Linked DNA regions of Homo sapiens. The protein of the gene in region 4 interacts with the protein of the main gene of each other region in a pairwise test. Each region holds a gene or a part of one and is shown on either strand. Other genes may lie near its edges.

What was found.
Region 1: the proteins of RNF144A (region 4) and RFT1 interact in binary tests that used the Homo sapiens proteins (3 or more experiments, as listed by UniProt).
Region 2: the proteins of RNF144A (region 4) and SLC61A1 interact in binary tests that used the Homo sapiens proteins (3 or more experiments, as listed by UniProt).
Region 3: the proteins of RNF144A (region 4) and SLC7A1 interact in binary tests that used the Homo sapiens proteins (3 or more experiments, as listed by UniProt).

Annotation. Positions count from the first base shown.
Region 1 is NC_000003.12:53,120,416-53,127,437, reverse strand, and holds part of RFT1 (man(5)GlcNAc(2)-PP-dolichol translocation protein RFT1), read left to right. Parts: intron 1-1,443; coding exon 1,444-1,529; intron 1,530-3,597; coding exon 3,598-3,714; intron 3,715-4,874; coding exon 4,875-5,064; intron 5,065-5,637; coding exon 5,638-5,739; intron 5,740-7,022.
Region 2 is NC_000012.12:53,247,493-53,254,925, reverse strand, and holds SLC61A1 (molybdate-anion transporter), read right to left. Parts: upstream 2,832-7,433; 5' UTR 2,658-2,831; intron 2,539-2,657; exon of another isoform or gene 2,443-2,538; intron 2,109-2,442; coding exon of another isoform or gene 2,091-2,108; coding exon 738-2,090; 3' UTR 520-737; downstream 1-519. UniProt on the Homo sapiens protein: Mediates high-affinity intracellular uptake of the rare oligo-element molybdenum.
Region 3 is NC_000013.11:29,592,667-29,600,024, reverse strand, and holds the start of SLC7A1 (high affinity cationic amino acid transporter 1), read left to right. Parts: upstream 1-4,336; 5' UTR 4,337-4,609; exon of another isoform or gene 4,610-4,881; intron 4,882-7,358. UniProt on the Homo sapiens protein: High-affinity, low capacity permease involved in the transport of the cationic amino acids (arginine, lysine and ornithine) in non-hepatic tissues.
Region 4 is NC_000002.12:6,913,469-6,920,416, reverse strand, and holds the start of RNF144A (E3 ubiquitin-protein ligase RNF144A), read right to left. Parts: upstream 3,006-6,948; 5' UTR 2,795-3,005; intron 2,016-2,794; exon of another isoform or gene 1,735-2,015; intron 1,624-1,734; exon of another isoform or gene 1,563-1,623; intron 1-1,562. UniProt on the Homo sapiens protein: E3 ubiquitin-protein ligase which accepts ubiquitin from E2 ubiquitin-conjugating enzymes UBE2L3 and UBE2L6 in the form of a thioester and then directly transfers the ubiquitin to targeted substrates.

The DNA.
Region 1 (7,022 bases), on a different chromosome or scaffold from region 4:
GAGCCACTGCGCCCAGCTAAGTATTGGGATTACAGGCATGAGCCACTGTACCCAGCCCTACAATCTCTTTTGATCCTTTTAATCAACCCTATGTGATAGGTAAACTCATTTGACCGAGGAAATTGAGGCTTATAACAATTAGAAGATAACAGATAGAAGAGCTAAATGGTGAATTGTATTTTTAGTAGAGACGGCATTTCACCATGTTAGTCAGGCAGGTCTCGAACTCCTGACCTCAGTTGATCCACCCGCCTCGGCCTCCCAAAGTGCTGGGATTACAGGCATGAGCCACCATGCCCAGCCATATCTGCATGTTTCTAAGGAGCAGCTACAGAGCTGTCATCAGACTCAAAAGACCACCTTTGACTCCATAACGGTTAAGATGGTGATTTCTTGGCTTTGGAGACCTTGCTGCTCTGTGATACTTTAGGTACAGTGTTACACAATGTCCCTTTTTGGTCATAGCTGTCCCCAGAGATTTTCAGACCACAGTAGTCCATTGATATGCTTAGATCAAATCTTCCAAATTGCAACTCTTCACAGATAACTCTGAGGGTGCTTGACACAGAAGTGATTTTCATTTGCTGCTGGGATGCAGAAGGGAGTCATTCAGTGAATGAGGTTTGCACTCTTCCCAGCATCCCCATTTAGCAACCCTGTTTAATTACAGTCTTCTTGTTCTCTGTGTCTCATGGGAGAAGTTCTTTGCTTAGATGGTTTTCTTGAATTGACAGATTGGAAAGTCTCAGGAAATGTCCCTTTCAAGCGGCAATAATTGGACACTCTCTCCCTTCCCCCCATGTTACATTACGTTATCTTATTTTTGCAGCATCATTTAAAAGGTATTTCAACTTCTCCCTGGAAAGAGACAAGTATTCAATAAAGAAATACATTTTCTATGTTCTAATTGAGAAAACTGAAGTTCAGAACGATATAAATGTCATTATTGAAATTCCTAGATATTATGAGGCAGAGGAGAAAAGAGAAATTAGTCCCCATGATTTCTGGTGAGTCTGCTATACCCTTAAGGCTCCCACTTGCTAAGCGTATGCTATTTCTAAACAGGCTGGGGTGGGGGAGTGTGGCCAGGGCCCGGCAAGGTGAACCACTAACTAGAATTCTCTTTCTGCTTCCTCAAGGGCTTGACTTTGTAGAAACTCAGTGAGTCTATTGGGGCCTCTTGGTTGTTATTAATAAATTAGGGAGCCTTCCAAGTGCCTTCCTGGGTTCTTTGACTACTGCACGGGAGTGCTGAGAGATCCCATGGAATGAAATTTCAGGAGAAATGCAGACAGGTTGGGCGTCTTAGAGGAGAGTCTCCATGAAAAAGCTGCTGTATGTCATTACATCACATTAGGAAGAACAGCCACATTGTTCTCATTTCAGCTAAGTAAACACTTCTAACGTCATTTATTCTTACGTATTTTTCCTCTTTTTCTATAGGTGTTGTTTCGGTTGATCACCTTTGTCTTGAATGCATTTATTCTTCGCTTCCTGTCAAAGGAAATCGTTGGCGTAGTAAATGTAAGGTAGGAGGAGATGCACCCTGGCACTGTCAGAGTTCACCTTCCTAGCCAGGCTTTCTTCAAACTCTGTACCTGTTTGTCATCCTTGGATTCTAGAAGCATGGACCTTTATCAGAAGCAGAATGTCTTAGCAGTAGGCTGAGGAGAAGCGTGCAGGAGTGGAGGGACGCGCAGGCGATGTTGCTTTTAATGGACTCATGGAGTGTTTTCCATTAGCAGCCTCCAAATGCACATTTCTTTGCCAGCTGTTCTGGTTTTCCTGCTCTTGGAAGTCAGGAAGGAGAAGAGTGGGAGTAATTCATTAAAAACTCTCTCTCAGATATAATCCTATGTTCTTGTCCTGCTGACAGCAAAGGAAACAGAAATTCAGTAGTTTGTGAGGATGCGCTTCATAATGGCAGGGCTGGAGCAGCCACCTTCCTTCCCTCCTCAGTGATTTTATAATTGGGATATGGCAACTGGGATTCGAGCTTGAGTCTTTGTCATCAGTTTCTTGGAGGCTCTTGGAAAGATGACTTCTTTGTCTTTTAGACTCAGCTTGTTTCTTCTACTCGCCTCCTTTCTGTTCAAGGACACCCACGCATATTTTGTCTTCACAAATGACACAAAGTATATGAAATGATGTGAGTGCTCAGAATAGCTCAGCTTCTCAGGTGTGTCTTCATGTCCTGATAAATAAGACAATATGTTCCAGACAGCATTTCATGTCTAATACTTACCAAACATATACTCTTGGCTCTGGTCTCAGAGCTTAGTGGCAGGACTCAAGCTTTGAGCAAAGGAATCATCTGTGGAGTTTTGCACTACATAGTGCTGAACAGGGGCCCAGGAATCTGAATTTTTATAAGCTCCTTAGGTGATTTTGAAACAGGGACCATTCTTTGAGAAATATGTTTTCTTTTCCTCTTCTTCACCTTCTTCTTCTTTTTCTTTTTTTGAGACGACAGGCTTTTGCCCTATCACCCAGGCTGGTGTTCAGTGGCGCCATCATGGCTCACTGCAGCCTTGACCTCTTGGGCTCAAGCGATGCTCCCGTATGAGCCTCCTGAGCAGCTGGGCCTACAGGTGTGCACCGCCACACCTGAATAATTTTTTTATTTTTTGTAGAGATGAGGTCTTACTGTGTTGCCCAGGCTGGTCTCGAACTCCTGGGCTCAAGTGATCCTCCCATCTTAGTCTCCCAAAGTGCTGGGATTGTAGGCATGAGCCTGAGAAATATAGGCACTTGGCCCTAAGAAATACTGTTTTAAAAGCAGGAAGGAAGAGGGGCAAATCCTCCTAGGGGCTCAGATTTTTCTCCCCAGGCAGCCTTCCTGAGATTGGCAGGTCCTGCTTTGACAGCCCTTGTCTGGCCTGCCCTGCTCCCCTGCTTAAGGTTTGGTTCCATCTCCTTATTTGCAGTGTTCCACAGAGGCACTGGGTAGCAGGATAATCCTTGGACAACCCCAGAGACCTTAACCCTGGGCTGTCCCTACTCTGGCTTCACCCAGACGGCTGTCTATTGAGGAGGGGAGATCTCAGCTACTCCTCGCTAAGATGCAGGAAGGCTCACCCAGGTGCTGCCCACCTGGGAGGTACCCAGGCACGCCTTGCTGATCTGGGTTGCAGCAGCCTCTGTAATGGTTGCCAGCCTTGTTGCCTGTCTTGAGATTCTTTTGGCCAGAGCCTCCACTCGGTAGAGGCTCAGCTTTTCTCACAGGGGCCATCGGTCACTCGTGTCAGTGTGACCAAGAAGGGTGGGGTTATAATCTTATCTTCTTCTCCTCCTTATGGTCATGGCCACACCTCTGCCTGTAGCCATGAAGGCTGAAGCCTTTTGAGGCCACTGCAGCAGTTTCTATCCTTCACGTAACTGTAGGCACACACCCTCAGGTGTCTTTCATTTGGTTCCTAACTCATTAGTTCTCATGGATCAGACCGGTAGGGGGTCCTGTAAGAGCCCACTGCCTTCCACATCACCACCAGTGGTTTATGACCAAGACTTTATCTCCTCCCTGTTGCTGGAAAAATCCCAGAAGTTCTCTCTATGAAAAAACTTGAGACCTTATTGATTTCTCCCTTTCATTTACAGACTAACGCTGCTTTACTCAACCACCCTCTTCCTGGCCAGAGAGGCCTTCCGCAGAGCATGTCTCAGTGGGGGCACCCAGCGAGACTGGAGCCAGACCCTCAACCTGCTGTGGCTAACGTGAGTTGTGCTTTGGCAGGAGACACGTTTCAGGAAGGCAGGTGTAGTGAGCATTGGAAATGAAACAGTAACACGTGCCTAAAGCTGAATTGCCCCCAGATTCAGTTTCGTCATGGGTTTCTGGGAGCAGGCATACAACAAGACGGGGACAGTGTTTGTGTCAAAGGAACTTCTTGGCTCATTTTCTCTCTGGATATCCAGGAGCCAGGAAGAGGTTCTGGGTTGGGGTTTCTGGGCCAGGTTTCTAGCCCTGGTTTCATCCTCTTTGGAGGTGGTTTCTTGCTGTTTCTGACCACCACTGTGGGCTCCACTTGGCCTGTGCCATCTTTTTTATTCCTAATCTTTTTGCTCTATAATATCTTTTGAGCTTTTAACAGCCACTTAGATTTAGTATTTCTTGAAAGCCTTTTATGGGTTTTATTACATTTTTCTTCAGTTTTGTTATGTGACTTCAGTTCTGAGTCTTTTAGGATATTCTTGAAGATCAAATACATTAGCTTAAAATTGCAATGGCTTTTCTCCAGCTAGGTCCCCACAGGGAGGGCTGGGGTTTGAGGTTATTTCCCAGTGCTGCCCTTGCATAACTCCTTATTGCCTCACAGAAATGACTGTCATGAGGGCTGGTAGGTGTTCATTTTATTAGAGGAACAACTGTTAACCACCCAGTCATATTTAAGTGCCCCATGGTACACATGTGAAACATGCGAAAGGATACTGAGCACTGCTCTGTTGGTTATTTGGGATGCAAGGAACAGCTGTATACAGTCTGTCAGTCATTCTAACAACAGGCATTTTCTTTCTGGGAATTTTGCTTATGGGGTCAGTATGTGTAACCCAGTGGATAGAAGTTTAGGCTTTGGAGTTATTGCAGGATTGGGTCTTGCTTCTGCCCTTGATTAGCTGTTCATGACCTTGGCCAAATTGCCCAGTGCCTGTCAGCCTCAGTTTCATTTTTTTAATGGAGATAATGACAGAGGATCATTGTGAGGTGTCAGTGAGATAAGCGGCGTGAATCATAGTGCCTGGCATGTAGTTAGTATCTTATAAATAAATGGTAGCTGTTTGTATTATAACTATTTTTTTCTGTTCAGTGTTACTATTTTAATATATATTTATATTTATTTTAAAATTTAGTGAATTATTTTTTTCTCCTCTTCTAGAGTCCCCCTGGGTGTGTTTTGGTCCTTATTCCTGGGCTGGATCTGGTTGCAGCTGCTTGAAGTGCCTGATCCTAATGTTGTCCCTCACTATGCAACTGGAGTGGTGCTGTTTGGTCTCTCGGCAGTGGTGGAGCTTCTAGGAGAGCCCTTTTGGGTCTTGGCACAAGCACATATGTTTGTGAAGCTCAAGGTCAGTGCACCTTCTGCTGTGAATGGGAAATGGGAAGAATAAGAAAAAGCGTTGTTTTTTAAAAATGCTTTTATAGGAGAGAATGAATGATTTTTCCAGACTTGCACCTAAAAATGTATTTAGAAAAAGATAACATGGTCAGTTAAGTTCTTACACTTGAAATTTGTCAGATGGGCTAGGCTAAAGTTCACCTCTGTTTCACCATAAATAAAAAACAGATTTGCTAATAATTTATTAGTTCAAGTCAGAATTTAGAAGGACCGTAAAGGTTTTTCAGATTTTTCTAGTGGTTATATTTAGTTGTATACTAACATTAACTTTTCTCTCTTCATCTTTTATAATAGATTACAAAAGAATATATATTTAATGTAAATCTTAAAGCATAATATACTGAAAGATCCATGAACCCACCACCCTACCCAAGAAGTAAAACGTTACTGATACTTATGTCCAGCTGTGTGCCCTGCCCCCACAGCCAGGGTGACCACTGCCCTAGATTTTCTGTCTATCATTCCATTACATCTTGACTTTTTGATGATGTTTGTAAACTGCACCTTAACCACATGTTTGCAGGTGATTGCAGAGAGCCTGTCGGTAATTCTTAAGAGCGTTCTGACAGCTTTTCTCGTGCTGTGGTTGCCTCACTGGGGATTGTACATTTTCTCTTTGGCCCAGGTAAGAATCATGGCTTTTAACTTTTTATATGATCTTTGTTTCTCCAACTGGTTTTTCTTCTTGTTCCCACCGCCGTGTGGTCTGCATTCACAGTACCCATGCCTGTGCAGGAGGTGGAAGCACCAGAAGGGTGGCCTTAGCACTGCTTCTCTAGCTGCCAGGTCCATTGTGTTCCATACACTGAGACCGTAGGTGTTTCTAGGGACCTGGTGAGGGCCACACACTGGACTTCATTGTCAAACATCAAAAACCCCTTTTAGACATTCAGTGGGCAAGCCTGTTTCAAACTGATCTTTGGTCATCTGATAGTCTTGTAAAGGAGAAAAAAATCAGTGGGGGGTGGGGTGGGAATCAAATTGTATATGTATTATTTTCCCTGGATTTCCATCTTTTTTTTGCAGAATAGGTGGAAACTCTGCCAAGCCTGTTTTAAACTTAGTTTGAAATCTCACATAATTCAGAGGGCATGAATCAAGTCAGAGTAGGTATGTGTTCAGTTTTAGCAATTTAGGCTTCATTTCCATCTCATTGTTTCCTAGTTCTAGTTCATATTTCTGGTTCTAATAAAAATACAACTAGAGTACAAGTGCTATTTTTAAAAATGAAATTTAAGATCAGATAGTTACCAGAACATTTTACAGTGCAAAGCAGTTGTAGTTTTCATTAATGTTTAGGAAGATAAATTAAGATTCTTAGTAATGATTTATGTAAAGGGTACTTCTCACAGAGGACACTGGCATCAGGTGGGTGGCTCACAGCAGTGCCGCTGGAGCTTTAAGGGCTTGGAGCATGAAGAAAGAAGGCTGGTGGATGATGGGCTTTGTCTCAGGCATGGTTGGGAGTGGAGAGCAGAGGGGCCCACACCTACTAAAGTGAGACTCTTCTTTTTCCTTGCCCTGTGCCTTTACTACAGGAGCAGCCTTGATATTGCCAGGTTGAAAGCAAGTCTAGAGGTGCCAGTCTTTCTTGAACCAGTGTGCACTGCTGTTCTCAGGAGGGAAAGAGGGTCGAAGGGAGCTTGTGAAAAGGGGCTTTTTTGGACTTTCCTCCTCAATCTGCAGACAAAACCCATCTGGCTGCTCCTGGCCAGAAGCCATTCTTTTGTCCTGGATGGGTGGAGGGAGGGGTGGGCCCTCTTATCACCCTACCCTTTCTTCCCCTATCTGTAGTAGCTCTTGCCCTGGCGAAGAGGAGAGAGCCAGCAGCTCAATTGTGCTTTGTAATCATTAATGGCACAGGTTTCCGGGGTTTATAGAAAACCCACAGTCCTTGATGACGGCAAG
Region 2 (7,433 bases), on a different chromosome or scaffold from region 4:
CTCAGGCCCTTCCCACACAGCTCTGCTGAGAGCAATTCCATAGTTCTCAGTTTGAACTGGAGACAGCCTTGGAGAAGTTAGAAACAGAAAACTTTTGCTGATAATCCCACCTCAAAACCTCTAGCTGGGCTGGGCGTGGTGGCTCATGCCTGTAATCCCAACACTTTGGGAGGCCGAGGTGGGTGGATCACCTGAAGTGAGGAGTTCGAGACCAGCCTGGTCAACATGAAACCCCATCTCTATTAAAAATACAAAAATTAGCTGGGCATGGTAGCAGGCACATGTAATCCCAGCTACTTGGGAGGCTGAAGCAGGAGAATTGCTTGAATCCGGGAGGCGGAGGTTGCAGTGAGCCAAGATCGCGCCATTGCACTCCAGCCTGGGCGACAGAGCAAGACTCCGTCTCAAAACAAAAACAAACAAAACAAAACAAAAAAAAACTAAAAAAAAAACCTCTAGCTGCCCACTCACCAGAAACTACTGATAAGGCTACAGGTAAGGATGAGTAAATCAAATCAATGATCATTTAAAAGTGTTTATTTTCTAAATGGGAGTAACACAGAGGGAACTTTTGGCACCTTCTTTCCAGTCCATCACCCCCATCATGTCCTCCCAAACACAAAGCAATGGCAGGAGAAACCACAGGACAGTCACAAAGTCAGTCACAGAGAGATCTGTACAATCCCGGATAGCTGGAATTCAAGAGTCTGTCCCAGCTATCTTGTCCTGGAGTGGGGTTACAGCTCAGGGGCATAGGGCTCCTCAGTAGGTGAAGGTACCCGCAGCTCAGCATCATGCCTTACCACGGTGAAGAGTCCCACCACTGCCAGCAGAGCCATCACCATGACAGCAGAGCAAATGCTGAACATATTCCGAGTGCCTGTTTTTCGATCACTGTCATGGAGGACAAGGAGCCCTAGGCAAGCCAGTGAGTGCAGAGGTACCCGGAACCAGTTGAGTACACCAGCCTGCTCTGTCTCAGGGATCACCTTTCTCCGTAGGAAGCTCATGCTGGGAAAGTATAATCCACAAGCCAACTCAATAAGTAGAAAGGCTATGAAGGACTCCACCGGACTCTCCTGGCCTGGGCTGGTAGAGAAAGTCAACATGAAGAGAGAGAAGACGACGATGAGCACAGCAAGGGACAGCAGGTGCATGGGCTGAAGGTGGTACCTCTTGGAGGTGGCGATACGGTACAGGGAAGAGCCAAGCAGGCTGGCTGCCATGAAGCTGGAGAAGATAATGCCCAGAGGGGCCCCGTGTGGGTCCAGCACAGGTGTCCAGAGGAAGACAAAGATGAAGATGACACTCTCAAATAGAGCTTGTATGGTGCCCAACAGCAGCACGCGGCGGTCCGACAGGAGGCAGCGCAGGCCTCCAGCACAGGTCCTTGAGAAGGCACGCTGCCGGTCATAGTTCTCCCCCCAGTTTCGAAGGGCCAAGGCCCCTGCCAGAGCCAGGAGAGGGATGGCAGCCACAAAGGGCGCTACAGGCCCCAGCCCTATCCAGCTGGCTACAGCCTCAGCTGCCACACCTGCCACTACAGCCAGCACATGGTTCCAGAAGGCAGCTCGAGCAAAGGTAGCTGGGATCCACTCAGCAGGGAAGTCATGCCGTTCCACGTGCTCATGGATATACCAGGCCTCGAAGGCTGAGAAGAGCAGGGCTGTGGACAGCCCACCAAGTGCTCGCCCCACTAGCAGCACAAAGTAGTCTTGAGAGAGTTTGGTTAAGCAGCATAGTGAGTAAGTCAGGGAGAAGAGGACACAAGAATTCTTGCGACCCAGCCAATCCACAAGGGAGGAGGCCACTAGGCCAAAGAGGACTGTAGAGGCAAGGCCACAGACATAGAGGATGGCAATTTGACCTTCCAGGAAGTAGTAATGCTGGTAGAGTTTATAGAGGTAGGGGGCCTGAAGCCAATCAGCTGCCAGGGCCAGGAAGTAGACCTGATAGAAGTCCAGTTGAAACCGAAGGAAGGAGGGATTGCTGCAGGCCCTTCCAGGGGGTTTAGCCCGGCATCTTGACAGTTCCAGCCCCAGGCAGGAGGCCAGGAGGCCTACAAAAGCAAGGTAGGCAGTCACCAGCATGGTGGGCCCCCGGACGACCTGGGAAGAGAGGTGGGAGTCAGAGCCATATCCATCCTTCGGGCAGCACGGTCAAGGGGCTGTCTTAAGCAGATGGCAGCTCCACCCAACCCCGCTGCCAACTCCACTCCCCAAGATCTCAGACCGGAGGGACCAGTTGGGTGGGTGGGAGGAGTGGCCACGCCAAAGCTGTCTCCTAGGACACTGTGGGGCAGGGAGGGGTAAGAAGACAGGGGAGAGGACTGGGCACTCAACCCATCCTTGCCTGTGAAGAGGGAGTCCCTTTCAATAATCCCGCTCCCGCAAATTCTACTGCCCTTTCCCACAGCAGCTCCCGTACACTTCCTTCTATTACCTCCCGTCCTCGCTGCGGAGCCTCTTTTTGCCCTCAGTGTCTCATCCTCTGTCCCGGGCATCCCTCCCACCCGCGCAGGCCTCTCGAGTTGCTTCAGGGTCATGCGTGTGCATCTCAGAGGCCCACTCCTCCAGGTCACTGGCACCCCACTGCGCCCCCTAGCCCCTGCCCAGCCCTGCCACATCCACTTGCACCTCGCCCAGACTCCGCCTCACCTGCTGCCCCGGTCTGCGGGGACGCCCCGGACACGTCCGGCTCCAGGCCGCCAGGCCACCCTCCCCGCTGTGGCTCCGGCTCCGGCTCGGGTTCCAGCAGCGCTCCCGCCCCTCACAGCCTGCTTCCGGGAGCCGGGCAGGCCTCTGGCCGCCGCCATGATGGCTTCATCACGTGACGGGGGCGCGGCGCCAAAACCCCGCCCCGCCCCGCCCGCCCGCCCTCCTTCCCTTACCCGGGCGCGGAACTCCTGACGCCTGGGGTGGGTCGGGAAGGGGCGACCATAGGAGGCTGCGGTTGCTTCTCCTGGCCTGGCCTCGCTCGCTGCCATCCCGTGACACCTGCTCCTCTGGCTCTTGGATGCCTGAGGGGCCACCCTGAAATAAGTGCCAATTTTCTTTTCTTCCGTGCAGTGCTCGGGAAAGATGCCCGCAGTCCGGTAGAGCCAAGGGTTGGAGCTTCCTAAGGAACAGCACCGCTGCCCGAAGCCGAGAAGGTCTCCTTGGTTTGCCTCCTCTCCCACTGCAGTGACCTCCATGCAAGAGAAGCCAGTATGGTCCAGACACCTGAGGGAGGCGGTGTGGTGTAAAGAACTTGGAGTCGGGCTGCAGACAGACTAAGGCGCAGTCCTGCCCCTGTCACTTACCAGCTGTGTGGCCTTGGGCAAGCCGCATAACTTCCCAGTGTCCCAGTTTCTTTGAAGTCACAGGATAGCAATGCCCAAATAAAGAAGGCTAAAGTTCAGTGGCAGCATGGGGTTAAGAACTTCAGCCTTGGAGCTTAATTCCCTACCTTCTGCCACTTACAAGCTGTTTTACCTTGGAAAAACTATTTAACCTCTCTACAGCTTCCGTATCATCTCCTCAAGAGCCTCCAATGACTTCCCATCTCACTAAGGGTAAAAGCCGAAGTATTTATAATGGCCTACAAGACCCTCTGTCCTCTGACCCTCTGCCACTCCTCTGACTTCATCCCCTGCTCCTCTCCCTCCCATCTATGTTGGCTACCACCAGGGCTTTTGCACACTGTTCCCTGTACAGTTCTTCTCCAAGATATCCACGTGGTTCCCCCCCCCACCTCCTCCAGTTCTCTGTTCAAATGTCACCTGATCTTGGCTGGGCCTGGTGGCTCATTCCTGTAATCCCAGCAGTTTAGGAGGCTGAGGCAGGCCGATCAGTTGAGGTCAGGAGTTCAAGATCAGCCTGGCCAACATGGTGAAACCCCGTCGCTAGTAAAAAAATATAAAAATTAGCCAGGCATGGTGGTGGGCACCTGTAATCCCACCTACTCGGGAGGCTGAGGCAGGAGAATCGCTTGAACCAGGGAGGCAGAGGTTGCAGTGAGCCAAGATCACGCCACTGCACTCCAGTCTGGGTGACAGAGCGAGACTCTGTCTCACAAAAAAATAAAAAATAAAATAAAATTTTAAAAAATGTCACCTGATCAGAGGGGCCTTCCATGGCCCTCCTGTTTAAAATAGCAACACCACCACCTCCAGCACAGTAATCTACCTACTTTCCTTCCAATTTTCTATTCTCTCTGCTGCTTTTACTCTGCAGTACACTATGTATTTTCCTTGTTTATTTATTTACTATCTTGGCCAGGTGTGGTGGCTCACACCTGTAATCTCAACACTTTGAGAGGCCAAGGTGGGTGAATCACTTGAGGCCAGGAATTTAAGACCAGTCTGGCCAACATGTCGAAACCCCATGCCTACTAATAATACAAAAAATTGCTGGGCGCGGTGGCTCACACCTGTAATCCCAGCACTTTGGGAGGCCGAGGCGGGCGTATCATGAGGTCAGGAGTTCAAGACTAGCCTGGCCAATATGGCGAAACCCCGTCTCTACTAAAATTACAAAAAAATTTGCTGGGCATGGTGGTGTGCACCTGTAATCCCAGCTACTTTGGAGGCTGAGGCAGGAGAATTGCTTCAACCTGGGAGGCAGAGGTTGCGGTAAGCCGAGATTGCACCACTGCACTCCAGCCTGGGCAACAGAGCAAGACTCCGTCTCAAAACAAATAAACAAAAAAATTAGCTGGGCCTGGTGGTGCGCGCTTGTAATCCCACCTACTCAGGAGGCTGAGGTACGAGAATTGCTTGAACCTGGGAAGCGGAGGCTGCAGTGAGCCAAGATTACACCACTGCACTCCAGCCTAGGGGACAGAGCAAGACTTCGTCTCTAAGTAAATAAGTAAATATTTACTATCTCTTTCCCTACAGATTTTTATCTGTTTTGTTCACCTGTATTCCCTATACTTAAAGCAGTCATTGATAAGTATTAATCATAAATATTCCATAAATAGTCTATGAATAAATGAATAAGTTATGTAAATTACTATCAAAAGTACTGGCCCATATTAACATAATAACACTTATCAGTTATTATGTACCTAAGGAGTTTTAAGAAGGTTTAGTCCAACTGCTGTAGGTGAATTATCTCATCTGACTGACAACAATCCATACAGTAGGTACTAACCAGAGTTGGAAAGGTTAGGTAACATGTTTAGAGTTACATAGTAAAAGGCAGTTAGAAGCAGGACCCAATCTTTCCAGTTCCAAGCTCACATAGTTTCTGCAATTATACTAGTTCACCTACTTGCGCAGCAGATCAGTCTTTTTTTTTTTTTATTTGAGACGGAGTTTCACTCTTGTTGCCCAGGCTGGAGTGCAATGGCGTGATCTCAGCTCACTGCAACCTCCGGCTCCCGGGTTCAAGCGATTCTCCTGTCTCAGCCTCCCAAGTAGCTGGGATTACAGGCATGCGCCACCACCCCCAGCTAATTTTGTATTTTTTAGAGACAGGGTTTCTCCACGTTGGTCAGGCTGGTCTCGAACTCCCAACCTTAGGGGATCCGCGCCCGGCCTGTTGGTTTTTTTTTTTTTTTATACTAAAGCTTAGAGGTAGGGTAGGAGGGTTTGGGATTACATCTGGAGAAATACTTTCTTTTGGCCAGGCATGGTGGCTTACGCCTGTAATCCGAGCACTTTGGGAGGCCAATGTGGGTGGATTATTTGAAGTCAGGAGTTCCAGACCAGCCTGGCCAACATGGTGAAACCCCATCACTACTAAAAATACAAAAAGCTGGGCGATAGTGGCACACACCTGTAATCCCAGCTACTTGGGAGGCTGAGGCAGGAGAATCTCTTGAACTCAGGAGGCAGAGGTTGCAGTGAGCCGAGATCATGCCACTGCACTCCAGCCTGGGGGACAGAGTGAGACCCTGTCCCAAAAAAGTCTTGAACTTCTGGCCTTAAGGGTTCCACCCTCCTTGGCCTCCCAAAGTGCTGGGATTACAGGCATGAGCCACCGTGTCCAGCCTGGAGAAATACTTTCTTATGATAAAACAGCTGATTTACGCCCTACAAGTTCCAAAGCGCTTTCATCCCTAGCTGGCAAACTAGTGGAAAGTAGAAAGGGGTGATGGTTCCCATGCTTTCATCTAGAAACACTAAGATAGAAAATCATGATTTCTGACCAGGGGTGGTGGCTTGCGCCTGTAATCCCAGCACTTTGGGAGGCCAAGGTGGGCGGAACTCTTGAAGCCAGGAGTTCAAGACCAGCCTGGCCAACATGGCAAAACCCCATCTCTACAAAAAATACAAAAAAAATAGCCGGGCCATGGTGGTGCATGCCTGTAATCCCAGCTACTCAGGTGGCTGAGGCAGGAGAATCATTTGAACTCGGGAGGTGGAGGTTGCAGTGAGCCAAGATCGCATCACTGCACTCCAGCTTGGGCAACAGAGTGAGACTCTGTCTCAAATAAATAAATAAATAAATAAATCATGATTTCTGCTAGGCTTGGTGGCTCATATCTGTAACCCTAGCACTTTAGGAGGTTGAGGTGGGAGGATCTCTTGAAGCCAGGAGTTTGAGGCCAGCCTGGGCAACTAGGGAGACTCCTGTCTGGGCATGGTGGTGGGTGCCTGTAACCCCAGTTATTCCTGAGACATAGGCAGGAGGATTGCTTGAGCCCAGGAGTTCAAGGCTGCAGTGAGCTCTGATGGTATCACTGTACTTCAGCCTGGGTGACAGAACAAGCCCTGTCTTTTAAAAAGGAAAAAGCAGTGTATGGTGGCTTATGCCGGTAATCCCAGCATCCCAGCACTTTGGGAGGCCCAGGTGGGCAGATCACCTGAGGTCGGAAGTTCGAGATCAGCCTGACCAACATAGAGAAACCCCGTCTCTACTAAAAATACAAAATTAGTTGGGCAGGGTGGCACATGCCTGTAGTCCCAGCTACTCAGGAGGCTGAGGCAGGAGAATCGCTTGAACCTGGGAGGCAGAGGTTGTAGTGATCTGAGATCGCGCCATTGCACTTCAGCCTGGGCAACAAAAGCGAAACTCTGTCTCAAAAAAAAAAAAAAAAAAGGAAAAGGAAAAGAAAAAAGTCATGATTTCCCCAGGGTCACTCAGTAAGTGCCCTCCAGCCCAGTCCTGGGCTTCAGCCCCTTGAACTCATGACAGTGAGTCTCTGAATTCTTTCTTTCTTTTTTTTTTTTTTTTTTTTTTTTTTTTGAGACAGAGTCTTGCTCTGTTGCCTAGGCTGGAGTGCAATTATGTGATCTCAGCTCATTGCAACCTCTGCCTCCCAGGTTCAAGCGATTCTCCTGCCCCAGCCTCCCGAGTAGCTGAGACTATAGGCGTGTGCCACCACGCCCGGCTAATTTTTGTATTTTTAGTAGAGATGGGGTTTCACTGTGTTAGCCAGGATGGTCTCGATCTCCCGACCTTGTGATCCCCCTGCCTCGGCCTCCCAAAGTGCTAGGATTACAG
Region 3 (7,358 bases), on a different chromosome or scaffold from region 4:
TGGCGTGCTCTTGGCTCACTGCAACCTCCACCTCCCAGGTTCCAGTGATTCTCCTGTATCAGCCTCCCAAGTAGCTGGGATTACAGGTGCCTGTCATCATGCATGGCTAATTTTTTGTATTTTTATTAAAGACAGGGTTTCACCATGTTGGCCAGGCTGGTCTCAAACTCCTGACCTCAGGTGATCCACCTGTATCGGTCTCCCAAAGTGCTGGGATTCCAGGCGTGAGCCACCGCGCCCTGCTGTGTTTTTAAAGTGAGGTGTTTTCTTATTACTCAGTTTTAAGAGTCCTTTGTGTATTTTGGATACCAGTCCTTTATCAGATATGTATTTTGCAAAGATTTTCTCCCAGCCTGTGGCTTGTCTTTTCATTGCCTTAACATTGTCTTTGCAGACCAGAAGGTTTTAACTTTAATGAAGGCCAACTTGGCAATCATTTCTTTCATAGATAATGCTTTTGCTGTTGTATCTAAAAAGCCATTGGTAGATTTCCTCCTATGTTATCTTCTAAGCATTTTATAGGTTTGTGTTTTACATTTAGGCCTATGATCTGTTTTGAGTTAATTGCTGTGTAAGATGTTAAAGTCTGTGTCTAGATTTATTTTTTGCATGTGGCGGTCCAGGTCCAGTTGTTCCAGGACCATTTGTTGAGGAGACTATCTTGTCTCCATTGACTTGTCTTAGCCACTCTGGATCAGCTATTTGTGTGGGTCTAGGCTACTGTTTGGGTTTCGATGTTTGTGCCCTCCAGACCTCATGTTGAAATTTGATCCCCAATGTTGAAGGTGGAACCTAATGGGAGGTATTTGGTTCACGGGTGTGGATCCTTCATGAAATGTCCTTCCTGGGGGTAGGTGGGACGGGGAGATGAATTTTCACTCTATTAGATGACTCTGGAGCTGGTTATTTAAAGGAACCGGGCCCTTCTCTCCTCTCCCTCTTGCTTATACTCTTGTCATGTGATCTCTGCACACACGCACACTCCCTTTCATCTTTTGCCATGAGTGGAAGCAGCCTGAAGCCCTCTCCACATGCAGATGTCCAATCTTGAACTTTCCAGCCATTAGAATTGTGAGCCAAATAAACCATTTTTTCTTTATAAATTACCCAGACTCGAGTATTCCATTATAGCAATACAAAACAAACTAAGTCTATTTCTGAGCTCTATATTCTGTTCATCTTTATACACATTTTTCATCCTTACCATGAAGTTCGTATGTATCCAGCAGGTAGTAAAATTCTTATTTCGAAAATGAGGAAACTGAGGCACAGAGTGAGCAGGGCCCCTCTCCCCAGGCCAGCAGCTGGTTAGAATTGAAACCCACATCTGCCTGGCTTTGATTCTGTGCACTTTCCTTGCCCCCAAGGTGCCTAATGGTGCTAGAAAGAGACTTAGTATGTCAACCTTAACCTTAGATGTTGCTCTCTAGGGCCTAAATTGTAGCATCTCCCTTTCTTAATGGTTGCTGGAATCTTGGGCAGCTGCTCTTTGATTGTAATCAAGGCTGCCTGTCACTCACGGTTTCTCTGAACCTGTAATGTGAGTCTTGACCTGCCTAAAAACTGGCTTTGCTTAAAACATGTAGCCCTCTTTATCAGCATCCTCTAATGTTTTGCTGAGATCTTGTGCGTAACTATTTTTTCCCTGGTTCATACTGAATCCTTTTTGCTGAGAAGTCACTTGCTCATGGGGCTTGTCTTATTGTCTTTTTGAAGACAGGACCTTGCTGAGTGGGATTGCTAAACGGAGCACAGTGCTAAAAATCTCCTGGGTTAAATGTCACCATACTCCCATCAGGGCCTGGAGCACTTGCTCTCAGAATTTACAAACATTAACTCATGTTGGCGCTCTGTGTTGCCCAAGGAGAGCATCTCTACAATTTATGAAATTCTATTTTACTGCCAGAAGTCAGCAAAGAGAAAAAGAAAGAAAGAGAGGCAGAAAGAGAAAATTCCACAGTCATATTTCAAACACCAAGGGATAGATTTTTTTCTTAAGAATATAAGATTTACAAGCTCCAAACAGGAGTGAAATAGTTTGCAGAAGCTCTCACAGCAAATGAACTGGTAGAGTTCAGATTCAAATCCTGATCTGGTGCCAAGGGCAAAGCAGGTGGTCTTTAATCCTACCAGGCTTCTCTCTGTGAGAAGGGGACATGCTTACTGTGGCCTCAGCAGACAGAGTAGGCTGCGTGGGATCTGGGAGATCTTCTGTGAATGGAAGGCATCATTTCACCACTGTGCAATTGAACTAAGATACATTGTTTTATTTATTTTTTATTGATTTTTATTATTATTTTTTTGAGACGGAGTCTCGCTCTGTCACCAGGCTGGGGCGCAGTGGTGCGATCTTGGCTCACTGCAACCGCCGCCTCCTGGGTTCAAGTGATTCTCCTGCCTCAGCCTCCCGAGTAGTTGGGACTACAGGCGTGCGCTACCACGCCCAGATCATTTTTGTATTTTCAGTAGAGACGGGGTTTCACCATGTTGGCCAGGATGGTGTCAATCTGCTGACCTCATGATCTGCCTGCCTTGCCCTCCCAAAGTGCTGGATTACAGGCGTGAGCCACCGTGACAGGCCAGATTTGTTGCTTTAAAACAAAGCATATATGGTGGCTTACTATGATGTCAAGCACTGTTCAAAGCACATTACAAAGCTGGGCAGGATGGTGCTCGCCTATATTTCCAGCTACTGGGGAAGCTAAAGTGAGGCGATCGCTTGAGCCTAGGAGTTCAAGGCTGCAGTGAGCTATGATGTTGCCACTGCACTCCAACTTGGTGACAGAGTGAGACCCACTCTCTAAAACAAAGACAAAAACACATTTTACAACTGCTAAGCCATCTGCATGTGTTCATTAAAACTTTTTCTGGGGACTTTTTCTGGCTCATCCCTGTAGTCCCGATGCTAGGGGAGGTTGAGGCAAAATGATCGCTAGACAGCTGGTATTTGAGGCCAGCCTATGCAACATATCAAAAACCCGTGTCTATATGTAGAAAAAATATTAACTAGGCGTGATGACACAAGCCTGTAGTTCCATCTGCTTGGGAGGCTGAGGCAGGAGGATGGCTTGAGCCTGGGAATTTGAAGTTCCAGTGAGCTATGATTGTACCGCTGCATTCCAGCCTGGGTGACAGAGTGAGACCCCTGTCTCTAAAAAACAAACAAATGACAACAGCAACAACAACAGAACACTTTTTCTGAAGCTAGCACCATGCAGTTATGTACTTTATAAATTGCTAGTCTAATTCCAAGGGAATAGTTCAGCAGCTGATATTTGAGAAGGACCTGTAGAAAGGATTCAAAGACCACGGACACCGTCCACTGTTTTTCTGTTTTCCTATAAGATAGAAGAAGGATGGCATTATTAATTTATGCCCTGTTTACCTATCCCAAGTCCCAGATCACTGGATCTTTAAAGATTATGATTCTCGCTTGGCTTTTGGTACAAAAGGAGACAAGGAGGGAGCTTAAAAGGTGAGCACGGTGTGATTCAGGACTGAAGCTTCTGCCACTTCCTGGGGGGTAACTGCAAAAGTGAGCCGTTCTGACTAGCCGTTTGTGCATTTGCCACTGCCAAGGGGGCACAGGTAGATTCAAGCTTTGGGGCTCTTCTGACAACTGGCAAGGATAAGGTATTAGCAAGGGCAAAGGAATAGTAATAAAATAATCCAATAACAAAGACATGAAGATTTATAATAATTTTTAGGCCGGTGCAGTGTTTCAGGACTGTAATCCTAGGGCGCTTTGGGAGGCCCAGGCGGGAGGATCGCTTGAGGCCAGGATTTCGAGGTTAAGGTGAACTGCGCTCCAGCCTGGGCAATAGAGTAACACCCTGTCTCTAAAATGAAAAGAAAACAGTTTAAACCTTTTAAGTGCATACCAAATCTTTTATTTTGGAGAAGGAAAACTGGTCTCGAGTTCCGTGTGAGCTCCCTGGGGCCCGCCGGGAGGGGGTTGGCACGGCCGGACCTGCAGCACTAGTTCTGGCCAGGGCGCTGTGGGATCTGCAGGGGACCACAGGATGCTGTGGCGCGGTGCGCTCAGATTGGCGGAGAAACGGCCACACGCCTACGGAGCTACTGAGAAGGCGAGCGGAGGCGCAGCCCGCCCGCCCGCCGCGGGAACCCCAGGTTGGGGCGCTGGGCGCGCGAAGACTCAGCCGCCCCGCCCACCAAGGGCGCGTCGGTCCCCGGCCGCAGCCTCTGGGCTGGCAGCCGCCGCCGCGCCGCGCTCCCATTGGTGCCCGGCGGTGACGCGGCCGAGCGGGCCGGGGCTGCCTGGTCCGGGGGCGGGCGTGGGGCGCGGGGCGCGGAGCGCGAGGGGCGGGGGCCGGGCGCACTGCTGATGAAACCTGGCGCCGGAACCCGCCAGCCCTCGGCGCCCATTCAGTCCGCGCAGGCAGGTGTGAGCAGCGGGTCAACTACCTGGCAGGCGCGCACGCGGCCGCGGGCTCCCGCTAACCGCAGCCTCCACTCCTCTCCCCGCGCGCCGCGCCCCCGCCCCGCCCCGCCCCGCCCGGTCTCGCCGGCCGAGCGTCCGTTGGTCCTTGAGCGCGTCCGACAGTCTGTCTGTTCGCGATCCTGCCGGAGCCCCGCCGCCGCCGGCTTGGTGAGTGCCCGGCCCCGCCAACGCAGGGGGCAGCTCCTTGGGCCCGGGTCATCACGGAGGGGGCCCTGGCGCCGCGTGGGGCCGCGGCAGGGCGGCGCGGGAGTGGCGAGGGCCCCCGCGCCGGGAACGCTGCCATCCTCTGGGAAGGGCCAGGACCAGGGCCGGGCGGGCCCCGGAGTGGGCGAGCGGGGCTGGTGCCCATGCGACTGTCGCCTCCACGGAGTCCATTTTGGCTCCCTGAAACCGCGGCGTGGTGCATGATGCAACACCGAGTGAGTAAGCGTGGGCGATCTGGCGATGCCCGCTCCGCGCGCCTGTCCGGGGACCCGCGCGCCGCTACGCACGGGGTGGTCGGGGTGCGTAGGCGGGCGGCGGGCACGGGGGCCAGACTGGGAGGCACACGGAGCCCGCCGGCGGCGAGGAGACCTTCCCTTACATGGCGCGGTGCAGAGCACCCCGCCCCGCCACGAGGTCCGGGGATGTGTCATCAGCCGTGGGTGGGGACTCTGCCCGGCCGCCCGGAGGGTGGTCCCGCGGCAGGTGGCCGGCCCAGGGACTCTGCTGCCATCCCCGCCCGGTGGCCGCCCTGACCTAGGGCGCCTGGCTCTCCGCTTGTCCCTAGAACCCGGGACGCGCCGCCTGCACCTCTCGTCTGGGTCCCCAAGATTGCTTTGAGGAAGTCTCCCCTAGGTGGGCTTCCTTGTGACCCAGTGTGGCCTGGAAAGGCCGGGTTCCTCAAGCCCTCCACATGGTTTGGAATGAGAGGAAGTTCTTCCGCCTTTAGCAAGACACCGTATTCTCAGGGTGTTCCTTTCTGCGTAGTAGAAAACTTCCCAGGCATGGGCAGGTCAGAGTCATTCTAAAACCTGCGCGTACACAGAGCGGCAGCTGCACTGTAGTACTACAACAGCCTGCTGGTTCAGCTCCTGACCCTTTCCAGGGGATGGGGGAACCAGACAGCAGTTGTGTTTGACTTGTGTGACTAGGATAGTCAGACATGTGCCTTCAGGAAAAAAATAAATAAATAACCTACATTTCCCAATACTCACGTCATCACCGCCATGCCCTCATGTGTTGGGTTTTAGTCCAGACATAGTTACCAGATGGTTGAGATTTCAATCCCAGGTGTATCTCCCTAAAGAATGTGCCTTTTATCTTACTTACATTCGACTAGTAGAATTGTGTATGTCGGCCTCTGGCCGAATGCCCTAATTGTATTTAATTCGAATTATAATTTATCTGGGATTTTTCCTAACATTTCTTGCCCTTTATGTTTGGTTCAGATAATAGGAAACCATGATACATTTATTCCTCTGGTATTTTTAGTTGATCTCAGTGGAAATTACCATGATTTTTATATGAACACACCCTCCTGTTATTAAAACAAAAGGTCTTATTTAAGTCACACGAACAGAATAGAAACTTAGGGGAAAGGTCAACAATAGATTAAAATGGTTTTAAAAATAGGTTTAGCATATTACGATCATGTTTAATTATTATAAAGGTAAAATTCAAAGGATGTCAAAGGAGTTTTGAGTAAAGAGGAAAGGGCTTAGTAAGTAGATCAGAAATGTACTCCCTTGTCTGGGTCTGGATCCTAGAGCCACGTGCTCCTGTACATATGATTACTTGCTTTAGGTGAAAAAAAAAAAGAAAGGCTTGAAAGACAAGACTGTTGACTTCAGGGAGTTACAATTTTCTATTTGGTAGAAGAACTCATTCTTTGATGGAATTAAATACGTGTTGATTGATTATTCTGGTCTGTAGTTTATTTTAACCAAAGTCCATACAAATAGATAATTATGTTGGAGGGCTCAGAATTATGTCCAATTAAATTAATCCTTTCTCATTATCAACCATGTATTTGGAGGGATTGCTATTAATCCTAGGGACAAATTTGAAATGTGAATAAGTGCATCCTTGTTATGGAGAAAAATATTGTTTCCCTCTAACCTTGGAGATACTTGAGTCTCGGAGTTATCTCTTCCAGAGGCATCTTCAGAGATGCCTATCACTCCACCTGCCTCTTGGTCCTCACTCCAAGCAAGACCTTCCGATAGGATGTGGTGTTTTTCTGTATAGTTGGCCCCTGCAGACCTGGATAGATTTTAAAGGCAGATCCAATAGGATTGGCCGGTGGATTCATGGAAGGACGAGAAAGGTCAAATATGACTCCAAGCACATCGGAGTTGCTGTATTAATGAGATGGGAAGGCTGAGCAAAGAACGTGTTGGATGGAAGAGGGACTTTTTGAAAGTCACAACTGACCTTTTTAGAACTCTTATCCCCAGGGTCAGGGCTGGAAGATGTATCTTCTTGGGGCCCCTCTCAGGTGCCTGCCTGTGTGTTGCAGCCACCCGTCCAGGCTGCTGGCCTCCTTCCCCTTCACCTAGCTTTACTGGCTCCTCTCGCCAAATCTGGGGGGTCTCTTCAGCCTCTGTCTCCTTGCTGCCCATGGCCTCCCTTTGCTCCCCTGCCGCCTTCTAGTGGGCCGCCTGGTGGTGGACTTGTCCTGTGGGATGGAGACCCTCCATACATGGGGTTCAAAGGTCCTGGGGTATTCCTGGATCTTCAGGACATCTGCCTACCCTCAGGTTTCCCAGGCCTCGGGTGGGGAGGCATCAGATCCCTGGCCAACCTGCTATCCACCCCAGGGTTTAGACCTCTCTTCCCGTGAGGGAACAGAGTAGTAGCTTCATTTGTGGCAGATTATCTGCCTTGTGATAAACTTTAGTGGCCTCCCTTTCTG
Region 4 (6,948 bases):
AGCTGATGCCAGGGCTGGACCAGCCACAGCTTTTCATGTGGCCTGGGCTACCTGACCCCTCCTTTCCAAGCTACGAGGTTCCCATGGTTACAACAAGGGTTCATAGGCCAGGTGGGTGCTGGCCCACCTGGTTCTGTGATTGTCAGTCTCCAAGGGCAGGCTTCCTTCCCATCTCTACCCCCAGAGGGAAAGGCTTCCAGGAGGGAGAAATGTGAACAAAAGTAGGCAGTGGGGCCACGTGGTGGACCACAGGGGAAAGAATGTTCTCAGAGGCAGGCAACGTAGCTTGTAGCTCCCAACCCTGCCGCCGCCTGCCAGAGTGGCACTTCTACCCCTGAACCTCAGCAGCTTCAGCCAAACAGTGTGAGGTCCCTTCAAAGTCCCAAACCACACTGAATCCCCAGGAGACGTGACTTACTCTAGCAACAGTCTGGATACAGGGATTACCAACTAGCAAGCTGAGGGCACTGGAATCTATTTATAAAATATATGCATTTTACAATGCTCTTTGAGTTTCCCAAATCCTCATGGCACAGATGACCTGGGGGTGCCTGCATCGTGCATTTGAGTTTGCCCTTCATTAGTTCCTCTTCCAGAGTTGCTGACATTAGAATCGGGAGCTCTTTAAAAACACAAACTGCAAAAATCAAATTGCACTGGGTCTGGAAAATTTCCATCCCATTAAAATTGGGTTATTTGCACCCATTTTCTCATGAGGTCCTCAATCCATCCACAGCCTTTGATGCCTGATGCAGGTGGAAGCCCACAGCCAGTGGGGGTCTGACTCGGAAGCCACAGTAAGGCACACCACACCATGCCTTCCCTTCCACGCAACACCGCGGAAATCACTCTAAAGCAGGGCTCAGATCACCCTCCTCCTCCAAAACCATCAATGGCTCCCACTGACACAGAGTCAAACCCAAAGTCTTGGCCTAGAATTCAAAGATTTCATGATTTATCCTCTTCTGACCCCTCTAGTCACATTTCCTTTGCACGCTTTAAAAATAAAAACAAAAATGTAAAAGGCATTAGAAAAGTGCAAAAAACAAGGTTCCCTAATCTCAGTACCGGAGAAGAGAATACAATAAAAAAGGCTGTTGTCTCCTTTGGAGCCACTGGGTGAATCCCCTGGGAAAGTTCACGGTGTCACACACCTTGTCCCTCCCCCTTCCTGCGCTGGAGCAGCTCTCTCTGGACAGAGGCCCTTCCTGCCACCTCTGACCTGCCCCACCTGCAAGCTTTGACTCAGACACCCCCTCCCTTGCAAAGGGGACTCCCTTTGCAGGGACACCCTGACTCCCTCCCTTCCCTCCTGGGGGCTCCCACAGCTCCACAGGCGTCTACACCAACTTACTTTCTACCTGGCATTTCATTTACAAATCCATCTTATCTGCCAGGCTCAACTCTCAACCCCAGCCCCATTCACTGGGGCATGTCCTCCTTCCATCTCCCAGGCCCCATTACGGGAAGTGTTTTCTTCCCAGGCTCTTAGTGCAGGAGCTAGACCCCCTCTCACCGCAGGGCAGCAGGGATCCACTGGGGATAGTTCCCTGGGGCCTTACCTCACTCCTCTGTTACCCCAGCCTTGATCCTGCAGGAGGCAGCGCAGGATGTTTGTTCAATGGATTTTTTTTTTTTTTTTTTTTTTTTTTTGAGACGGAGTCTCGTTCTGTCGCCCAGGCGGGAGTGCTGTGGCGCGATCTCCGCTCACTGCAAGCTCCGCCTTCCGGGTTCACGCCATTCTCCTGCCTCAGCCTCCCGAGTAGCTGGGACTACAGGCGCCCGCCACTGCGCCCGGCTAATTTTTTGTATTTTTAGTAGAGAGGGGGTTTCACCGTGGTCTCGATCTCCTGACCTCGTGATCCGCCCGCCTCAGCCTCCCAAAGTGCTGGGATTACAGGCGTGAGCCACCGCGCCCGGCCAGTTCAATGGATTTTAAAAATTATTATTCTCTAGAAAAAAGACCACGAACTTTGGAGTGGACATCCTGAGACCTGCCTACGAAGACCATTAGGGTAAAGAAGTCACCCCTTCACCCCAGGACCAGGAAGCCTCCAGGATGGCATAAGCGACCAAACAGCTGGGAGCCAAGCACAGTGCAGGGGGCTTGGGGTCGGCGGCCGGAGGCTGGGGTGGGTAAGACCCGCAGGGAACTCCGGGGCTCGGGCGGCGGCTCATTCCCCGGGAAAGGGCTCGCGGTGGGGACCAGGGGCAGTAGCAGCCGCGGACCCCGCGCGCAGGGGATGTGCGGGGCATCCTCTTGGCCAGTTCCGACCTTCCCCGCCGGTGGCGATGCCCCGGACGCGTCGTCCTTTCCCAGACCTCCTCTTGGGGCCGAGGCTCCAGCCCCAGGGTCTGCGGGCGGGGCCGCGAACCTTGAAAGCCCCCGCCGCCAGCTCGCCCGCGGGACCCTGGCCCGGGGCGCCCTGTCCCGCGCCGCAGCGCAGACCCGCGACCGCGCAGGGCAGGCAGGGGGACGCCAGGTCCCTAAGCGCCCACTGCCCTGGGGCGCGGGCGCCGCCTGCGAGAGGCAGGGCAGGGCAGGAGCAGAGCAGGGACGAGGTCAGGGACACGGGCAGGGCAGGGCGGGCGTCCTCTGAACGGAGCCCGCGAGTCCCCGCCCGGGACGCTGCCCCCCGCCCGCTGCCACCGGGCGCCGGGGCAGGACCCAGCGGGGCAGGCGCGGCCGCAAGCCCCGAGCCCCAAGGCCGGCCGCGCAGCGCCGCGTCCCGCCCTCCCCGCTCCGCGGCCGGCCCGGGCGATGCGGACACAAAGGGGACGCGCGTCACTCTACCTGGGCCTGCTCGTCCGCGGTGCGCGGCTCTGACGCCTCCGCCCGGTACTGGCTGCGGGGTGCCGGGTGCCCGCAGTTTGCCGCCCGCGCCTCCCCGCGCCCGCGCAGCCCGCACGGCCCGCACTGCAATGCCAGCCCTGCCGCCTCCCGCCTGCCGAGAGCCCGCGCGGGGAGAAGCGGCTGCGCGGGCGGGGCGCGAGCGCGCACAGAGGCCGGGCACGCGGGAGGCTCGGCCCCGGCCCCGCCCCCGCGCCGAGCCGCACAGCGCCCCCTGCCGCCCGCCTGCGCCGGCCCGAGGCCCGGAGCCGCCCCGCAGGCCCCAGGACAGGCTCCGGCACGAGGAGGGGCTGCGGAGACCGCCCGTGCACGCTAACATGAAAATGCTATTCCTGCTTTAGTGGCCTCCAGAAGACACTCCCCTGATTCCTACACCGAGGGAACACACAGCAGCAAGCTAGGAAAGAAGGGGTGACCCAGCCCAACGCTGTAAACCAGGGCGCGAACCGGCGTTGAGCTGTGCAGCTGCGCCCTGGGCTCCAGTCCTGCTCTGCCGCAGACCCCACCGGAGCCAGCACCTGCCTCCCCGACCCTCGCTGGGGCGGCTGTGAGATGAGCCCAGAGCCTTCCTGAGCCAACCCTCGCAAGGAAAGTCTGTCTGTTCACCCCACTATCCTTGTCTTGAAGGATGAAGAAAAGAGGGCCCCCCGGGAGGTCCCAAAAGGTGGAATGGACATCTGGGATCCAAGCACAGCAATTTCTTTATTTTTCTTAAGGTATCCAGCTTGTTGGAATCTAAGATCTGCGAAGGTATTAATAGAATTCCTGCATCTTCTGCCACTCCCCATAGAAGCTTGAAGTTACACAAATGTTAAATTATACGTCAGATGTGCATATATGAACAAAACCTACGAGTGTGCATGAAATAACACCTTCTTAAATATATAGATTCTTTTTTCTGCAATATTAAATGGAAACCCCACTAGAACATCGTTTTTCCTTAATAGCATACCCTCCACACTGTGTGGTCTAAATTCAAGCTCTACCACCTACTAGCCATTAAGCAAGTTATTAAGGTCTTCGTGCTTCCATTTTCTTACGTGGAAAATGAGGTGGCAATAGTATGTATGAGTTCTTCGGAGGGATTAAACAAGTCAAATAGGCCAAGTGCCATGGCTTACACCTGTAAGCCCAGCACTTTGGGAGGCCAAGGCAGGAGGACTGCTTGAGCCCAGGAGGTCAAGGCTGAAGTGAGCTGTGTTTGCATCACTGCACTCCAGCCTGGGCAGCAGAGTGAGACTTTGTCTCTCAATAAATAAAGAAATAGTCAAATTAAATATAACTGGCAAACTAAAACAACTCCATAGTCCTTAGCTACAATTTGTCTCATTTCTCCAAAGAATTAAATCAGATGATTCTTAACTAACTCAAAGCTCTGCATAATTTGTCTTCTGCTACACATACATCTTTATAGTAAAATAAAATAAAGCTGTCCCCTCTGTATTGAGAAGTTATTCTGGTAAATATTTGACCTCTTCAAATATATGAACGAGCACTTGCCTTCTAATGCCTCAGTTTCAGATTCTTTTTAGAAATGTCATTATTCAAGAAAAATGCACAATGGGAAGAATCTTAACAACAGCACTTTGTTACTTCAGCCTCTCACTAGAGGATGAAAATCGTTCTGCATAAAGGCCTGGGCTTTATGAAAAATATATTCACACCTCCCGTGTCCGAGCTGGGATACCAAAGAAGTTCCTGGTTGAGTACTACTTATGAATGAAGGATTCAGGGGATGCACAGGTGGGTGACTGCAAATGCACAGACGTTGTGCTGTGTTCCCCACAATAAAGGGGTCTGTATTAAGATGCAGGCATTCTCATGGAACACAGACGTATAACACTCAAGCTGGGGGACTGCAAAGGAGCATCTGGGGCTGCAGGAAGAGAGTTAAGGTGCAAAAATGCCCTGACCCAACTGAGACTTGTAATTGCTCATGTGGTAATACATGTGACTTCATTCCCCTGCTCTGTCTTTGTGAATGCAACCATTGTTGGGGAGATAGTGAGAGGGGACACTGGCATTGAAAGTTTTGTTTGCAGCAGGCCTCAAAAGGCACTCAGATGCAGATTTCCCTGCAAAGACTTCCCGGCCTATCATGGAGTTCCCCATCCCTAGATCTCTGATCTCTGAGCTGGTGTAATACTTAGTCTTTGTCTGTGTTGATCATGGCATCTGCCACACTTAATGTTTGTGGCATTCACTTTCTGATGCTTAGATCTTACGATTCTAGAGAACAGCATTTTTCTACATATTCCCTCTTAGGGCCTTGAACATAATAAGTGCTCAATAAATACTGAGTGAAATCCTCTACTCTGAGCTTTGCCTCTGAGCAGCTGTCCTAGTTCTCTCCAACAAGAAGTTTGTTGGGTCTCTCAAGTTCACTTCCACCTGTCACTGTCAGTTTTCAGTCCAGCCCCTTACTCAGGTCTGGCTGGCCCATCTCCCCCAGAGGGCTGTCCCATAGAGCCCATTGTAAAGGACACTCATTGTTGCCAAGAGTTTGTGCCAATGCAGTATGACTCACCCTTCACTCATTGAACAAGCTCTTCCTGATTACCTAGATGGGCAAAATTTCCCTGCTCATGCGAAGCAGGCTGGCGACTCAGTGCTGCAGCAAATGGCCCAGAAGCTGGGAAAGCAGATAGCCGTTCTGACACTTCTCTTCTAGACAGAAAATCAAGGGAAGCTCAAGACCCACACTTGAATTTTTTTTAAAAAATTAGACAAGGGGCTGGGTGTGGTGGCTCATGCCTGTAATCCCAGCACTTTGGGAGGCCGAGGCAGGCAGATCACCTGAGGTTGGGAGTTCAAGACCAGCCTGACCAACATGGAGAAACCCCTGTCTCTGTTAAAAATACAAAATTAGCCAGGCGTGGTGGCACATGCCTATAATCCCAGCTACTCGGGAGGCTAAGGCAGGAGAATCGCTTGAACCCCAGAGGCAGAGGTTGCGGTGAGCCGAGATCGCACCACTGCACTGCAGCCTGGCAACAAGAGCGAAACTCAGTCTCAAAAAAAAAAAAAAAGAAAGAAAAAGAAAAAGAAAAGAAAAAAAATTAGACAAGGAAGTTTATGTGAATTTGTAATCACACATTCCATAAATATAGAAAATTCACTTTTTTTATTTTAAAAATTAACAAATTCCATTTCTTGTTTCTCTAGAGTAGCAGGAAATCAAATGTCAGTTCTCATTCTGACTTTCTCTCCTTAAGGACACAGAGGAATCTGGGGGATATTATGGTTCTGGGAATGTGGAATGTAACGTCTCATCTTCAGCCCATCTGTGCTACTGATCATCTCATTCCAGAAGCCATGCCTTCTCTCAGGAGCAGACAGCACAAGACTTTCCTGCCAGAGGCACAGTCCCCAGGTGAGCCACACAGCCTTCACAGGGTAATGCCAAAGAACAGAGGAGAGTTCCTGCTACTCTCCGGGTCTTCTTGGCAAAGCTTCTGATACAGTCTGGCTGTCTCTCCACCTGAATCTCATCTTGAATTGTAGCTCCCATAATTCTCGTATGTCATGGGAGGGATCAGGTGAGAGGTAACTGAATCATGGGGGTGGGTCTTTCCTGTGCCGTTCTCGTGACAGTGAATAAGTTTTATGAGATCTGATGGTTTTATAAAGGGGAGTTCCCCTGCAAATGTTCTTGCCTGCTGTGACTTTGCTCCTCCTTGCCTTCCGCCGTGATTGTGAGGCCTCCCCAGTTATGTGGAACTGTGAGTCCATTAAACCTCTTTTTCTTTATAAATTACCTAGTCTCAGGCATGTCTCTATTGGCAGTGTGGGAACAGACAGACTAATACAGCTTCCCTTGTCTGTACTCTTACCCTTCTCCCTTCAAAAGCATCCTCTCTTTCTTTTCCAACCTTTCCAACCTCTCGAATAATCTCTGCAGTGGGAGTAGCATCCACATAAGACAGGATGCAGAGATGTCTTCAAGCAGCTTCAAACAAAACTTCAAGAAAGAAAGTGCAAGTGAAAAAGGAAATTCATCCTTCCAGTCACTTAACACAGCACTGTCACGGACACCTTGTGCCTCCTTAAAATTCGTATACTGAAGTTCTAAGCCCCAGTACCCCAGAATGTGACCT